Regions from separate parts of the Homo sapiens genome. Here region 2 is linked to region 1. The links come from fine-mapping of genetic effects on gene expression. Tissue or cell type: blood mononuclear cells. Region 1 holds a variant in brackets; the other region holds the start of a gene. All regions are shown on one strand. Distances are from middle to middle.

Region 1 (8,172 bases):
TCCCTCTACTGTTTGGGCAGCTGAAGAGAAGTCTAGGGAAGTCAGAGAAAACGCCCCAGAGCTGCCTCCAGCTTCCCTGGGAGTCCTCAGCAGGAGTGGGGAGGGGGCTGTACTGAGCCAGGAGAGAACCCAGGCCCGGCTGTCCTTCTCAGCGCAGGGCAACCACTGGATTTCTTTAATCACACATCCAGGACTAAACTACGGTGGGAATAGAGTCTTCCAGCCAAATAAGAAGATTCTTTACCCTAAGAAATAATGCAAGCAGTAGAAATCGGGGTAGGGGGTAGGGGAAGGAAGGCATCACTTTATCTTCCATGACCCTGTGCTATCTAAAATAAAGGAAGTCCAGGCGACGTGGCTCACGCCTGTAATCCCAGCACTTTGGGAGGCAGAGACGGGCAGGTCGCCTGAGGTCAGGAGTTCCAGACCAGTCTGGCCAACATGGCAAAACCCTGTCTCTACTAAAAATACAAATATTAGCTGGGTGTGGTGGTACATGCCTGTAATCCCAACTACTTGGGAGGCTGAGGCAGGAGAATCGCTTAAACCCGGGAGGCAGAGGCTGCAGTGAGCTGAGATTACGCCACTGCACTCCAGCCAGGGAGACAGACCGAGACTCCATCTCAAATAAATTAATAAAATAAAACAAAACGCTGATTTTATTTTATTGTATTTTCCGTTTTGTGGAGAATGGGGTCTTGCTATGTTGGCCAGGCTCTCAAACTCCTGGGCTCAAGCACTCCTCCCGCCTCTGCCTCCCTAAGTGCAATGATTACAGGTCTGAGCCACCAAACCCAGCACTGTTGATTTTACATAATGTCACTAATTTATCAAGGTTTTTGTAATCTCTTATCTGAATCTTGGGGATTTTTTAGGAACTAATAGTTCTTGTCATTGTGAAACTGTTCTACTACATTTGGCATTCCATTATTATTTTTAACAATTAAAAAATATTTTTTGGCTGGGCGCGATGGTTCACGCCTGTAATCCCAGCACTTTGGGAGGCCGAGGTGGGCAGATCATAAGGTCAGGAGTTCGAGACCAGTCTGGCCAACATAGTGAAACCCCATCTGTACTAAAATACAAAAAATTAGGCAGGTGTGGTGGTGTGTGCCTGTAATCCCAGCTACTTGGGAAGCTGAGGCAGGAGAATCACTTGAACCTGGGAGGCAGAGGTTGCAGTGAGCCGAGATTGTGCCATTGCACTCCAGCCAGGGTGACAGTGCGAGACTCCATCTAAAAAAAAAAAAATGCCGAATCTGGATGCACTGCCTATGAGTTAGCCCAGCTCCTCAAGGAGCAGTACATAAAAAATAAAAATAATAAAAAAAAACTTTTGCCAGCAACATCTGAGCTGAACTAAAATTTAAGTAAAATTAAAAGTTTACATTTCAATCATGTAGAATATGATACCATTTTTATAAAATGGTGTTAGTTTATCTCTGGGAGTCCCTCAATCTATGTGCCCATCCATCCATTCATCCAATCTGCCGATCAGTCTGTCCTGTCATTCCGCGCGCGCGCGCGCGCGTGTGTGTGTGTGTGTGTGTGTGTGTGCATGAGAGAGAAAGAGAGGGGGAGAGAAATGGAGAGGCAGAGAGCAGAGGGATTCTGGAACACTCCTCACCAATGCTAATGCTTGCTGTTCATGGTGGTAGATTGTAAAGAAATCTGTTTAGGCCTGGTGCGGTGGCTCACGCCTGCAATCCAGCACTTTCAGAGGCTGAGGCAGGCAGATCACTTGAGGTCAGAGTTCGAGACCAGCCTGCCAACATGGTGAAACCCCATTTCTACTAGAAATAGAAAAATTAGCCGGCTGTGGTGGTGCTCGCCTGTAGTCCCAGCTACTCAGGAGGGTGAGGCAGGAGAATCGCTTGAACCTGGGAAGTGGAGGTTGCAGAGAGCTGAGATGGTGCCACTGCATTCCAGCCTAGGAGCCAGAGTGAAACTCTACCTCAAAAAAAAAAAAAAAAAAAAAAAAAAGAATGTTTAGAATAAGCAAGTATGGGTTCAATAAAAACCATAGTCATTATTTTAGAAAACAATAAAATTAATCCAATTGATGAAACAGAGAAGGAGATGGGCCTCATCCTAGAAGTGTTCGCCACAGAACACTGGGGTCCTAGGTTGTCTGGGACAGTCCTTTTATGACTCTTGTCCTGGAGTAATGATCAACGGTGCCACCTTTCTCTCTCAATACAGACTCGGTTTAGGGGGCATCATGGCAAGGGGAGGCGAAGGCACGCCGACGCCGAGCTCCTCCAGCTACAGCGGGGACACCAGCAGAAACGTCTCCTCTCCTGCTCCCCTCAGCCCCGATGAAAGCGGCACATGGAGAGGGTGGGAGCCCAGGGGATGACAGATACTGGCTGAAGTGGGGAAAGTTCTAGAAGAAGGAAAGCGGGAGGAAGTCTTGGCTGGTCTAGGATGCATCAGTCAGGAAGACAACTGTTTCTTCCCCTCAGGGCAGGATTTCTCAGCTTTCTACTTAGTGAAGGAGAGTGCAGCATCTTTATAAAATCCCAGTATTTGCCCCCAAATCTCTTACGAAACATCTACTTCAATAGGCATTCGGCCTGAGCCTAGAGGTTCCAAGGCAGATGGAAAATACAGGTGTCCCTAAACAGTCGCCTACAAGGCCTTTCTTTGGGGCCAATGGCCTTGTGATTAAGTTGGTGCCAAAGAGCCAATGACTGAAAAACTAGGGCTTACCGCAGTATAATGTTTGTTTCTAGCAAATGACACTCTGGCACGCTCTCCAGTATCTTACTATATCGAGTTGCCAAGGGGCCACATCTCCAGCTTGCAGCTGAAACCCTGGGAGTTCTGGACAGCCAGGTCTCTGCGGATATCCTGAGGACCAGGACTGGTGGTCAGCCGAGGACTACAGGTTTCTCGGGTGCCTTCCTGGGGCTGGGTCCAGGTGGCAACGACCGGGTCTGGGAGGGTCCTCTAGTTGGATTGTCCCTCTGCCCCTGACTTGCCCGAGCCTCACAAGACTCCTGAGGAGGGTCTGAGGGTGCTGACTGTGCCCTCCCATCAGACTGAACTCAGAAAGCCAGGGCAGCTCAAGCCAAAGCTGCCTCACCAGCAGCTGAAGACAGGGGCTCTGCAGAACTCTCCAGACCCCAGCCA[A/G]CTGCCCCAGCCAGCTGCCCCTCAGGCTTCTGGAGCCCCCAGAGCCACACTGAACTTCAAGCATCAGTGGGTGGAGCTAAATAGAAGTCACTAGTCCCTTCTGCAGTTGCCATGAAGCAACTTACAGTAGTCTCCAATGGCAGTTAACAATTGCAGGAGTTTCTTTGTAACTTGTCCCAGTGTAAATAAGGGTTAGTCCTAACAGTAAAACAAAACAAAACAAAACAAAAAACCTTAGGGCTGGGCACAGTGGCTCAGGCCTGTAATCCCAGCACTTTGGAGGCCAAGGCAGGAGGATTGCTTGAGCTCAAGAGTTCAAGGCTGCAGTGAGCTATGATTGTGCCACTGCCCTCCAGCCTGGGTGACAGAGCAAGACCCTGGCTCAAAAAAAGGAAAAGAAAGAAAGAGAGAGAGAGAGAAAGAAAGAAAGAAAAGAAGAAAAGAAAGAGAGAGGAAGGAAGGGAAGGAGAGAGAGAAGGAAGGAAGGAAGGAAGGAAGGAAGGAAGGAAGGAAGGGAGGGAGGGAGGGAGGGAGGGAGGGAGGGAGGAAGGGGAGGGGAAGGGGAAGGTGAATGGGAAGGCGCCAGGAGCCGTGGCTCACGCCCGTAATCCCAGCACTTTGGGAGACCAAGATGGGCGGATTACCTGAAGTCAGGAGTTTGAGACCAGCCTAGCCAACGTGACAAAACCCTGTCTCTACTAAAAATAAAAAAATTAACCAGGTGTGGTGGCGTGCACCTATAGTCCCAGCTACTTGGGAGACTGAGGCAGGAGAATCACCTGAACCCAGGAGGCAGAAATTGCAGTGAGCCGAGATTGTGCCACTGCAACTCTAGCCTGGGCGACAGAGGGAGACTTCTGAAAAAGGAGAGAAGAGGGGAGGGGAGGAGAGGGGAGAGGAGGGGAGGGGAGAGGAGGGGAGGGGACGGGAGGGGAGGGGACGGGAGGGGAGGGGAGGGCCCAGAGATCTCTAATTCCAAACTCTGAATCTAACTGTACAGCAATTCTAGAAGAGCCTAAGATCATAAAATCCTGAGCATCTAAGATGTGGGTTCTCCTTATTTGACCCCTCCCAGGTCAACATCCTTCTCCTAACCCAAGTGTCAGTCTCTTCCCTTGCCAGTGAAGTAGGGAAGAAGGCATGTACACATACACACACGCACACGCACACACACACATGTACATACCCCATGGGGGGCAGAGGGTCACAAGCCCAGGAGGAGGGGGCACAGCTCACCTCGGCCCCCCAGTGCCATGACAGGCTGGCTGTGCCTCTGCTACCAACAGCAGCCAGCTGGTCTTGCTCACTTTGTTCTGAACTTAGACACCTTCCTTCTGCTGTCTTTCATCCCACGGCAATAGCGAAGAGATGAGAGTATAAAACAGAGATCCCTTTCATCTAGCATGACCCATGCTGTTTTAAGGCAGAACTCAGCATTCAGAGAATGTTCCAGTGATTGACCCAGCAACACAGACAAGCCGTTTTCTGTTCTCTAGTCCACATACAAGGCAGCTCCTCCACTCCTGATGAGGAAGATGCCGGCCCCTCCCACTCCCCTGGGACCACTCTCGGGCCCCATCAGACCTGTGTCGGCTGAGCCCCTCCGTAGGCTGAGCCCTCCGTAGGCTGACCTGCTCTTCGCCGGATGGACTGCGCGCACTTACCTTCCCCCTCCCAGGGAAGCGAGGACTGAATGTGGCCCAATCTCTGGCTGAACTGAACGGCAGTGGACAAGCAGGTTTGACAGGCACATCCCACAGGAGCAGTGCCTTATATGGGGCTTCTATGAGCCATCGAAGCACCAGTGCAGTCCCACAGCTAGACATTGCCGTAAGAACCACAGGGATGGCTGAGAACAGTCCGTGCATCTGGTCGACCCACAGAAGATGGTGATTGAGGGTGATTGAGGGGAAGGCTTCAGGCTTGGGGGCTGGGAATCCTCTCTCCTTTGTGAACGGTCACCCAGTTCATCATCATTTCTACCCTTGGGAAAATCCTACGAAGATCAGGATAAATTCTAGGGCCTTTCTTGGTTCTCATGATCCATTATTGGAAGTATCTGAATAATTCCAATAGATCCATCTCAAGTTAACATTTCATAACTATTGTTTAGATTTAGATGAAAGTCTTGGTCCTCCACCTTGAGATATGTCTAGAATCCGATCCATTCTCACCACCTGCATTGTGGTGTCCTGATCATGGCCCACCGGGACCTCTGTAATGGCTCCTAACTTCTTCCCACGCCCCCATCACCAGCGCTCAACACAGCAGACAGAGAAGTCCTGCTAGGGCATGAGTCAGCTCCTGTCATTCCCTTCGGTGTACAGGTCCTGGAGTCCTCAGCGTGACCATGAGGCTCTGCTTATCAGGTCCTTGCTGACCTTATCTCTCTTTTACCTGCTCCAGACACACAGCCCAACAGTCTTGACAGTCCAGGCACACTTCTGCCCCAGGGCCTTTGCACCTGCTGTTCCCACTGCCTGGAACACTCTTTCCCATCCCTCCTTCCAGACTCTACTCAAATGCTACTTCCCAGATCATCCTACTTAAGTCCGTAGACCTCCCATCCTGGCCTTCACTCCCCTTCCCTGTTCCATCTTCTCTGTGGGAATACTGCCTTGACCTAACGTGTATTCTAGTTACGTGGCTTCCTGCCAGCCTCCCCACTCCACAGTAACCTACTGAGGACAATAATTCTTGTCTTTCTTGTTCCCTGCTGTGTCCCCACCCCTAGGGCTGTGATATTCCACAAATATTGGTTGAGCGAATGAATAAACATTGGTTAGGGGCTTGGTTCCCAATGATGCAGACACTGAAAGAAGGGAAATTCACAGGTCCATGGCCTGAGAACCTTCAGGATTATCCTGCGGACAATCAAAGATCGGCCTTCAAGGTCATGTAGCTCATGGTGGCTGAGCAGTAGCTCCAACCCAAATCTCCTGGTGATGAGCCGGCTGAAGGCACAGCCAGTTGGGCAGAGCAAGTGAGAACGCAGGCCGAGGCCAGGTGCAGACATGAACTCTCCAACCAGGGTTACAGCCCCACTGGGTGTCAGCTTCCCCTCAGGCAGTTCATTTAAGCCCCTAAGGCTCAGCTCTCTTAGTTTCCTCCAGCAGACCTCATGATAAGCCCTCCCCCACAGTGGGGAAGCTTGCCAGCTCATCACACTGTGCCAGCCACACAGAGAATTCTAGTTACAGAAAACGCAAAGAAATGCCGCCATTCCCAGTAAAAGAGGGGGGCAGAAGAATGCACTGGAGATGGGAGGAGCCTCCCTAAGAACAGAAATAGCCATAGAAATAGTCAAGGTGCAGCCATAGAAAGGAATGAAGGGCCTTTGCAGAGACATGGATGAAGCTGGAAGCCATCATTCTCAGCAAACTAACATGGGAACAGAAACCCAAACACTGCATGTTCTCACTCATAAGTGGGAGCTGAACAATGAGAACACATGGACACAGGGAGGGGAACAACACACACTGGGGCCTATGGTAGGGGGAGTGGAGGGAGAGCATCAGGACAAATAGCTAATGCACGTGGGGCTTAAAACCTAGGTGATGGGTTGACAGGTGTAGCAAACCACCATGGCACATGTCTACTTATGTAACAAACCTGCACATTCTGCACATGTATCCCGGAACCTAAAATAAAATAAAATAAAAAGAAACAGTCAAGGAAGCCACAACCCTGAAGGACCCTGTGTTTTCTGAGGTCAAAAACCATATCTTAGGCTAGGTGCAGTGGCTCATGCCTGTAACCCCAGTGCATTGAGAGGCTGAGGAGGGAGGATTGCTTGAGGCCAAGAGTTCGAGACCAGCCTGGGCAACACAGGAAGACCCTGTCTCTACAAAAAATAATTTTAAAAAAAAGCCGGGTATGGTGCAACATGCCTGTGGTCCCAGCTACTCCGGAGGCTGAGGTGGGAGGATCGCTTCAGCCCAGGAGGTAGACGCTGCAGTGAGCCGTGGTTGCACCACTGCACTCCAGCCTGGGCAACAGAAGGAGACCCTGTCTCAAACAAAACAAAACAAAACGTATCTTAATCACTATGGCATCTTCAGGAGGGCCCCACTGGCAGGTCATCTATATCACACAGAATTGCAGCTGCATACACATATCCAGAGCCAATAAAGCAGCACCTCTAGTAATCTGGCCAGGTTAGGTTAGGGTATCCCTGGAAAAACTCAGAAGGGGGACCTGGGGGACAGGGGCCAGCAGGCACCAGGACAGCACCACCCAGGGGCTCTGTGCCCCGTGGCAGTGATCAGTGAAGAAACGGACATGTGCCAGACTTGGGCCAGCTGAAGAGCTCCTCTGGGCACTTTTTTTTTTTTTTTGAGACAAGTCTCACTCTGTCACCCAGGCTGGAGTGCAGTGGCTTGACCTCAGCTCACTGCAGCCTCCACCTCCCAGGTTCAAGCGACTCTCCTGCCTCAGCCTCCCGTGTAGCTGGGATTACAGCTATGTGCCACCATGCCCAGCTAATTTTTGTATTTTTAGTAGAGACGGGGTTTCACCATGGTGGCCAGGCTGGTCTCAAACTCCTGATCCCAAGTGATCTGCCCACCTTGGACTCCCAAAGTGCTGGGATTACAGGCATGAGCCACCATGTCTGGCCTCCTCTGGGCACTTTATTCATCCATAGAAGGTAGGGAGTTGGGGAAAAGCTTTGCCTTGAAATCATGATGTTGGCACCAGAAGAAGATGGAGGCGTGAGGCCCTAGAAGAATAAAAATCAGACCCTCACAAGAAAACCCCAAGATCAGGAGTTTAGGTTGATCGAGGAAGGGGGCCTCTACCTGACTCCCCTGCCATGGGTGGATGTAAATAAAGGGTCAGGGTGTATAAACAGGGAGCGTATGCGTCTTCACTCTTGTACCTGGGGGCTGGGAGGATTCCAGGACTTCTTCCAAGACATTCGAAACAGGTCCTCAACATCCTAGCTGGAGACCAGAGTAGGTGTCTCTGGCTGGGTGGCTCTGCAGCGTGGCTGGCTGTGGATGAGGATGAGTGGCAGCAGAGACCTCACGCCCACCT
Region 2 (8,179 bases), 24 kb after region 1:
AGATCTCGAGACAACTATCAAGACAACAGCATGGGGGACTCATCCCCGTGATTCAATTACTCCACCTGGCTTCTCCCTCGACACGTGGGGATTATAGGGATTATGGGATTACAATTCAAGATGAGATGTGGGTGAAGACACAAAGTCTAGCCACGTCAACAACTTTTCCACAGGTGGTGGAAAAAAATTCTTCCAGAGATGGATGGGGTAGTGGTTTCGGGATGAAACTATTCCACCTCCCATCATCAGGCATTAGATTCTCATGAGGAGTGCACAACCTAGATCCCTCGCATGTGCAGTTCACAACAGGGTTCACACTCCTCTGAGTCCAGTGCTGCTGCTGACAGCAGGCAGAGCTCAGTTTAGCTCCCTTGCTTGCCTCCTGCTGCACCGCCTGGTTCCTAACAGGCCACAGACAGGTGCTGATACTGGTCCGTGGCCTGGGGTTTGGAGATTCCTGCTCTAAAAAGTGGATTTACCCTCATCATCCCAGGGCCCCTCAGCCTCTAAGAAAAGAGGCCTCTTGGTCACAAAGGTGGACAGACCCATTAAGCTCTGGGTGAGCAACCCCGTCTCCAGCACCTCATGTCCCACAATGTTTGTGTGTTGGGGAGGGGTCCATCTCACGCGATTAATCTCAAGGCAGGAGAGCCCATGTCTGTTTTATGCCCCATTGTTTCCCTAGAAAGCATCGTTCACCCAGAGACTGCAGCAAACCTCAGCAGCTCTCATCATTGTCACATTGTCATAGACTCTGGGCTAAAAAGCTACTGCTCCCCAGAAAAGTTAGAGCCCTTTAAGATGTGTGTTCAGACACCTGGCATAAACAACATTTCCAGAAAAATGGTGTAAAATGTTAGATCATCTAGTCATAAAAATATGAAGGAAAACAAATCTAAGCAGTTTGTGGATTAGATTTTAACTTTGAACAAGGTGAGAGGCCTGGTAGCTCACACCTGTGATTCCAGCACTTTGAGAGGCTGAGGTAGGAGGATCGCTTGAGCTCCTGGGCTGGGGCCAGGATGTACGGTCCTCAGTAAGGCTTCTGAATAAAACTAACTTTAATTCTTTAAAAGCTTAACTGTTTTTCTTTAGTCAACAAGGTATTTTACATTCTTCTCCTACGTTAAGTCATTGAAATCTGTGTGTATTTTACGACAAAGCGCTACAGCACGGCCTGGCAAACAGTGTGAGGCACGAAATGATCCTTTGTAGAGTGAGGAAGGTATCAGAACTTACATTTTATTCAGCTTTATAAATATTTAATATTTTGGGTAACACCAGCATCCTTACAAGGAATGTTTATCAGAAGGTCAATTATCTGTCATGGATAAATTCTGGTGCCAGAATGAGATTCACTCTTGGAGAAGGCTGCATTTACTTGTTCACCCTTGAAATACTGCAATCCACCGACTTCTTGATAAAAGGATGCTCTGGTTTTCTGTTTATTTTTGAGATGGAGTCTCTGTCGCCCAGGCTGGAGTGCAGTGGCGCAATCTCGGTTCACTGCAACCTCCACCTCCGGGGTTCAGGAGATTCTCCTGCCTCAGCCTCCAGAGTAGCTGGGACTACAGACACCCGTCACCACGGCCAGCTAATTTTTGTATTTTTTTTTTAGTAGAGATGGGGTTTCACCATTTTGGCCAGGCTGTTCTCGAACTCCTACACTCATGATCCGTCTGCCTCGGCCTCCCAAAGTGCTGGGATTACAGGCGTGAGCCACCAGGCCTGGCCAGGATGCTCTGGTTTTAACTAAAATTAACCTTCATAAAAGGAGAGCTTTTCAAGCACTCCTAGAAAGAAGCTGTGGATTAAAGATGTGCCCAGCGATGCAAGCCAGATTTGTGACCATAAGAAAGGACAGGACCGGGCTCATGCCTGTAATCCCAGCATTTTAGGAGGCTGAAGCGGGCAGATCATGAGGTCAGGAGTTCAAGACCAGCCTGACCAACACGGGGAAACCCCATCTCTACTAAAAATACAAAAATTAGCCGGGCGTGGTGGTGCATGCCTGTAATCCTAGCTACTCAGGAGGGTGAGGAAGGGGAGTCGCTTGAACCGGGAGGCAGAGGTTGCAGTGAGCCAAGATTGCGCCACTGCACTCCAGCCTGGGGAACAGAGCGAGACTCTGTCACACACACACACACACACACACACACACACACACAAAATAGCGGGGCGCGGTGGCTCACGCCTGTAATCCTAGCACTTTGGGAAGCCGAGGTGGGCGGATCATGAGGTCAAGAGATCAAGACCATCCTGGCCAACATGGTGAAACCCGGTCTATACTAAAAATACAGAAAATTAGCTGGGCGTGGTGGCGCGTGTCTGTAGTCCCAGCTATTTGGGAGGCTGAGGCAGGAGAATGGCGTGAACCTGGGCGACAGAACTTGCAGTGAGCTGAGATCGCGACACTGCACTCCAGCCTGGGCGAACCGAGCAAGACTCCGTCAAAAAAAAAAAAAAAAAAAAAAAAAAAAAAGGACAGAGCTGGCGCTCGTGGAAATACAATTTTCCCAAAGTTAAAAACATGATTCTCAACAGCATGAACTGCCCTTCAAAGATGATGGAGCTGCTTCAAAAGGCGTTAGAGGAGCTGGGTACGAAGAAGCACTTAAAGTGTCAGATAAGAAAGCGGTTAGTGGCTGCGCGTGGACACCTGTGGTCCCAGGTGCTCTGGAGGCTGAGGCGGGAGGATCGCCTGTGCTCGGGAGGTGGAGGCTGCAGTGAACCGAGATCGCGCCATGGCACTCCAGCCTGGGCGACAGGGCCAGACTGTCTCAAAACAAACAAACGAACAAACAAAAAGCAGGTTAAGATGCACAACTGGTTAAAGTTCTGCTGGGCAATTAAAAAATGATCCCGTCTGGGTTATCTTTGCTGCAGGACACGCATTAGCAGCACCGTCTACTGACAAGTGGCCTTCATTAAGAGCAAATTGCAGGCTCAGCATGTATTTTATTTATAACAGCTGCTTGCCGGGCACAGTGGCTCATGCCTGTAATCCCAGCACTTTGGGAGGCCAAGGCAGGCGGATCACCTGAGGCCCCGCAGTTCAAGACCAGCCAGGACAACCCTAACCCCCGCCTCCCCCAACCCCGTCTCTACAAAAAAATTTAAAAAATTAGCCGGGCGTGGTGGCGCGCGCCTGAGGTCCCAGCTACTCCAGAGGCTGAGGCGGAGGCTACAATGAACCCTGATCCTACCACTGCACTCCAGCCTGGGCGACGGAGCGAGACCCTGTCTCCAACTCACCAGGCAAACGGTGAAGACACACCCAGGCGCGTCCCCTAAGAGGGACGCCGGCTTCAGGGGCCCTGGCCCTCCCCAGCGCAGACCCGCCGGAGCCCAGCGCCGCGCCGGGGCCCACCACCGGCGGCCGTGAGGGTTTCCACTCGAATCTCCCCGGCGAGCTGGGCGCCTCCACTACGGGTCTGCGACGCAGTCCACCCACTGCGGGCCCGAGAGAGGACCCGTGCTCGTCATTTTTATTCGAGGCGGGGCTATCTGGGGACCCCGCCCGGAGCGGAGGCCCCTCGCGGCCCCAGCCTGTTTCCAGGGAATTCAGGTCCACACGCCGCTCAAAGAACCTCAGCGCCCCAGTCCGCGAAATCCCGCGGCCGGTACGAAACACCGCCAACTTTAGAAGTACCACCCCCTCCATCCCTTTCGTAAGGAACTGGGTGCCCCGCCCTCAACGAGATCCCGCGGGAACTGCATATGGCGCGAGAGCAGAAACACCTTACTTTTCCCTGCGGCAAACGCCCAGTTCCCTTTCACGTGACGAAGAGTGCCCCGTCCCCCAGAGGCGTGGCCGCGTCGCGCGTACGCACGTACGCACGTACGCACGCACGTCTCTCGCTTTCGCATACTTAAGGCGTCTGTTCTCGGCAGCGGCACAGCGAGGTCGGCAGCGGCACAGCGAGGTCGGCAGCGGCACAGCGAGGTCGGCAGCGGCACAGCGAGGTCGGCAGCGGCAGCGAGGTCGGCAGCGGCACAGCGAGGTCGGCAGCGGCAGCGAGGTCGGCAGCGGCGCGCGCTGTGCTCTTCCGCGGACTCTGAATCATGGCGACCACGGCCACGATGGCGACCTCGGGCTCGGCGCGAAAGCGGCTGCTCAAAGAGGAAGACATGACTAAAGTGGAATTCGAGACCAGCGAGGAGGTGGATGTGACCCCCACGTTCGACACCATGGGCCTGCGGGAGGACCTGCTGCGGGGCATCTACGCTTACGGTGAGCGGGCGCGGGCCGCGGGGGCCAGCCGGGGGCGAGTCGGGGGCGAGCCGGGGGCTGAGGGCCAGACTGGTGACTCCCGGGCCGGCCCTGCGCTCCGGAGGTCGTGGTCAGGGTCGAGGCTCGGGGGCCAGTGACGTCCGACCCCCACCCCCACCCCCGTCCTCGCCCTCACGCCTGGCTGTGTCGGCGCTTTCGGTGTGTGTCCCCCGTGCAGAGCTCGGCGCTGGGTCTGTCGGGGGCTGCAGCCGCTTCGAGGCACCTCAGCGTCCTTCATTCAGCAGATAACTGATTTCTACCTATTAGCTTTTCTAGGTACTGGGGTTTTGGCGGTAAACCGGAAGGGTTTGCGCCTTTACGGGTTTTGAATTTCGTTTGGGGGGAAAGCATACTGTCAGGTTGCCCAGGCAACCTGAAGAACCTGAAGCGGGGTAATTGAATAGAGTGGGACTGGGAAGGAGGAGAGAATTAGTAAAGCAGAGAGGTAAGGGGGTTCGCAGGAGGGGGTGCCATTTGAGCAGAGTTCTGGATGAAGGAGACTGTTATGAGAAGAGGGAAGAGCAGTTGGGGCAGAAGGAACAGCTGGTGCCAGGGCCTTGCAGCCCTTAGCCAGCTGCATTCCAGGAACTGAAAGAAGTCCCCTGTGGTGGGATTTTGGAGAGCTAGTCGGGGCAGATCTAGCAAAGACGTGTAGGGTGACGAATAATTTGAATTTCATTTAGAAATCTAGTGGGAAGCCAGTGGAAGGTTTTAAGTAGCTATGTGACACGATCACATTTACAGTTTTAAAGATTCTTCTGGGTGTCTGTAGATTTGAGGTGAGGCGAGGCAAGGCAGGAGAGGAAACAAGAGAGTTGGGAGCTTTTGCTGCAGTTCAGGGAAGAGAGGATTGTGCTGCCTTGGAGATGGAGTACCAGGGAGCTGACAGCATTGGCTGATGGATTGAACGTGAGTGACAGAAGGAGGAGAGTTGGAGTGTTTTGAGTAACCGGTGGTTGATGCTGCAAACATTTGGCTAGGTAGGCAGCACTCCAGAGAGTCAGAATCAGGAGCTGTCTCTTGGTATGTTTGAAAGATGTGAGGAAGTTGAGGGAGAGCCTGGAGAAGAGGTTGGGTTGGGCACATAGATGGGAATGACCAGCATCTGGGATAAATGGCCTGTGTTTAATGCTTGGGACAGGGACATTTTTTATCCTGTAGTTCTCTTCCTTTTCTTTCTTCCTTTTCCTTCTGACAGTCCTGCTCTTGTCACCAAGGCTGGAGTGTAGTGGCATGATCTCAGCTTATTGCAACTTCCACTTCTGGGGCTCAAGCGATTCCTTTGCCTCAGCCTCCCGAGTAGCTGGGATTATAGGTGTGGGCCACCACGTCCTACTAATTTTTGTATTTTTAGTAGGGAGGGGATTTTGCCATGTTGCCCAGGCTGGTCTTGAACTCCTGACCTCAGTGATCCACCAGCCTCAGCCTCCCAAAGTGATGGCATTACAGGTGTGAGCCACCCCACCTGGCCGTATCCTGTAGTTCTTGATGCCACAACAGTTTGGACAAAGTGAAGCGAAGTTGCTGAGGATGCGTGGTGAAAAAGCATCTCAGGCAGCCTCACAGTGAGGCTGACAGCCCCACCTGGTTTCCTGGCACTCAGGCAGTCCCTGCCCTAAGACACTGTTGTTAGTTTCCCATCTATGTGCTTGCTCTTCATGAAGAGTTTAAATCATCTGCTATATTTGCATTTGTGTTAAGATGGGAAATTGTGCTACATTTTCTTTTGTTTCTTATTTTTCGCTATGCCCCAGAACTGAGCAGAGCTACATTTAAGAGACTACCAAAAAATAATTGAAATAGAGTTTTTGTACATAAAATTTTATTTACTTGAAAAACACGTGGTTCTTCTTCAAAATAGCCTCACCCTTTGGTGTAGTAGTTGCTTTGCAAGAGAGATGGTGTGATGGTGTTGTAGTTAGTGAGCTGCATCCAGACAGAACAACATAGGACACCCTGCAGCGTGACCCACGCAGGTTAAACAGAGTTGTAGACCTGTCAGCAACACACAGACTTAATGCTAGCTAGTAGGAGAGAACAATGGCTAGAGTGACTTTCCTGTTTTTTTGTTGTTTTTTTTTTTAATTTAAAAAGTAGTATAGGTTGTTTGTAATCCAGTCAAACCTAAGGGAGTAATTAGAGTAAAAAGTAAGTTTCTTTCCACCCCTCTACTGCAGTAACTGCCAGGAACATTTTGGCACTTACACTTCCAGATGCTGCACACCCAGATTTTTTTTTTTTTTTAAACAAAACTGTTGTCTATATTCTACAATTTGGTGGTTTTTTAAAAATAGAGATTGGTCTTTACAAATAATATCCCACGTTAGTGTAGAAATCACTCAGCCCAATTCATTGAGCCCCTGGGTTTTGAGAGCTTGCTATGTTGAACACTGGGTTAGGCTGGAGGACAGGTTCAAAAAACAAACCATGTCTGCCCCTGAGGAGCTCACAGTACAGGGTTTCTATGCTGTCATTGTGGTGAGGGCTAATTTTTTGTTTTTATTTGCAGGTTTTGAAAAACCATCAGCAATCCAGCAACGAGCAATCAAGCAGATCATCAAAGGGAGAGATGTCATCGCACAGTAAGTTGTCCTGGGGTGCGGCGCAGGGCTGGATGTAAATTTGGGCAGCGCAGTGCAGTTAGATGCTCTGGGATGACTGTTTCCCTCAGCTTGTACACGCTCAGTTCCAACACTTTCCCTGACTTTAGCCACAGGGTTTAATACTTTTTTAAATTTGTGTTCTCTACTGTGGAAAGCTTTCATTTTCTTTTTGAGATGGAGTCTCGCTCTGTTGCCCAGGCTGGAGTGCAGTGGTGCCATCTCGGCTCACTGCAACCTTTGCCTCTCAGTTTCAAGCTATTCTCCTGCCTCACCCTCCCAAGTAGCTGGGATTACAGGCATGCACCACCATGCCCGACTAATTTTCATATTTTTAGTAGAGACGGGGGTTTCACCATGTTGGTCAGGCTGGTCTCAAACTCCTGACCTCAGGTGATCCACCCTCCTTGGCCTCCTAAAGTGCTGGGATTTCAGGCATGAGTTACTGCGCCCGGCCAAGGCTTTCATTTTCTTAGCCAGCTTTGCTTAGTGGTTTGCTGGCATGTGGAATTGTATATAACACAATTTCGGAAAAACAGACTGTGCTTTTCCTCTGCTCTCACACCACCACAACAGTCATCAGCACAGAAGAAGACTTCTGTGAGCAGAGGTGTGGGGCTTTTCCAGCTGGGTGTCCTCCAGTTCAACTCACACCACCTGCCTGGAGATAGGCCATATCCTGCAGGTTGACGGCTCAGTCCCCATGACTACCCTCTTTTCAGACACCAGTTATAAGTTCGGATCTCTAGAACTTCTGACCAAGCAGCTTCAAGTTGGGTTCCCAGGATCCCCTCTTTAGGTTGGATTAATTTGCTGGAACAGCAGCTCAAAGAACTCAGGGAAACACATTTAGTGGTTTATTATAAAGGGTACTGCAGAGGATACAGATATGGGGGGAGGGGTGCAGCCTCCAAGGGGCGGGTGGTCACCTCCCGGAACCTCCTTGTGTTCCACTGTCTGTGTTCAGCCATCTAGAAGCTCTTCGAACCCAGTCCTCTTGGGTTTTTATGGAAAATTCCATGAGGTCAGCATTCTTTCCCCCATAAGGGAATAGGGCAGGAGCTTTTCTGGGATAATACCATAATGCTTTTTAAAAAAAAATTTGAAATTTAAATTTTTTACATTTTTCGAGACAGGGTCTTACTCTGTCTCCCAGACTGGAGTGCAGTCGTGTGATTACAGCTCATAGCAGCCTCAAGCGATCCTCCCACCTCACCCTCCCAAGTAGCTGGGACTACAGGCACACATCACCATGCCCAATTAATTTTTGTATTTTCTGTAGAGACAGGGTTTTGTTGTGTTGCCC

What was found. PIP is the estimated chance that this variant, and not a neighbour inherited with it, causes the effect.
Region 2: it holds the start of EIF4A3, and the variant in region 1 is fine-mapped to the expression of EIF4A3 in blood mononuclear cells (TOPMed, PIP above 0.99).

The regions. Positions count from the first base shown.
Region 1 is chr17:80,166,684-80,174,855 of GRCh38, reverse strand. CARD14 (caspase recruitment domain family member 14) reads right to left here and starts at 4,826. Exons shown (of 24, transcript NM_001366385.1): 1 at 4,800-4,826; 2 at 1,628-1,950. The variant A/G (reference allele first, on the strand shown) is at 3,136.
Region 2 is chr17:80,142,848-80,151,026 of GRCh38, reverse strand. EIF4A3 (eukaryotic translation initiation factor 4A3) reads left to right here and starts at 3,899. Exons shown (of 12, transcript NM_014740.4): 1 at 3,899-4,234; 2 at 6,783-6,855. The coding sequence starts at 4,066. RefSeq lists enhancers at 1,818-2,530, 2,531-3,244, 3,245-3,957, 3,958-4,672 and silencers at 3,241-3,430, 4,271-4,320.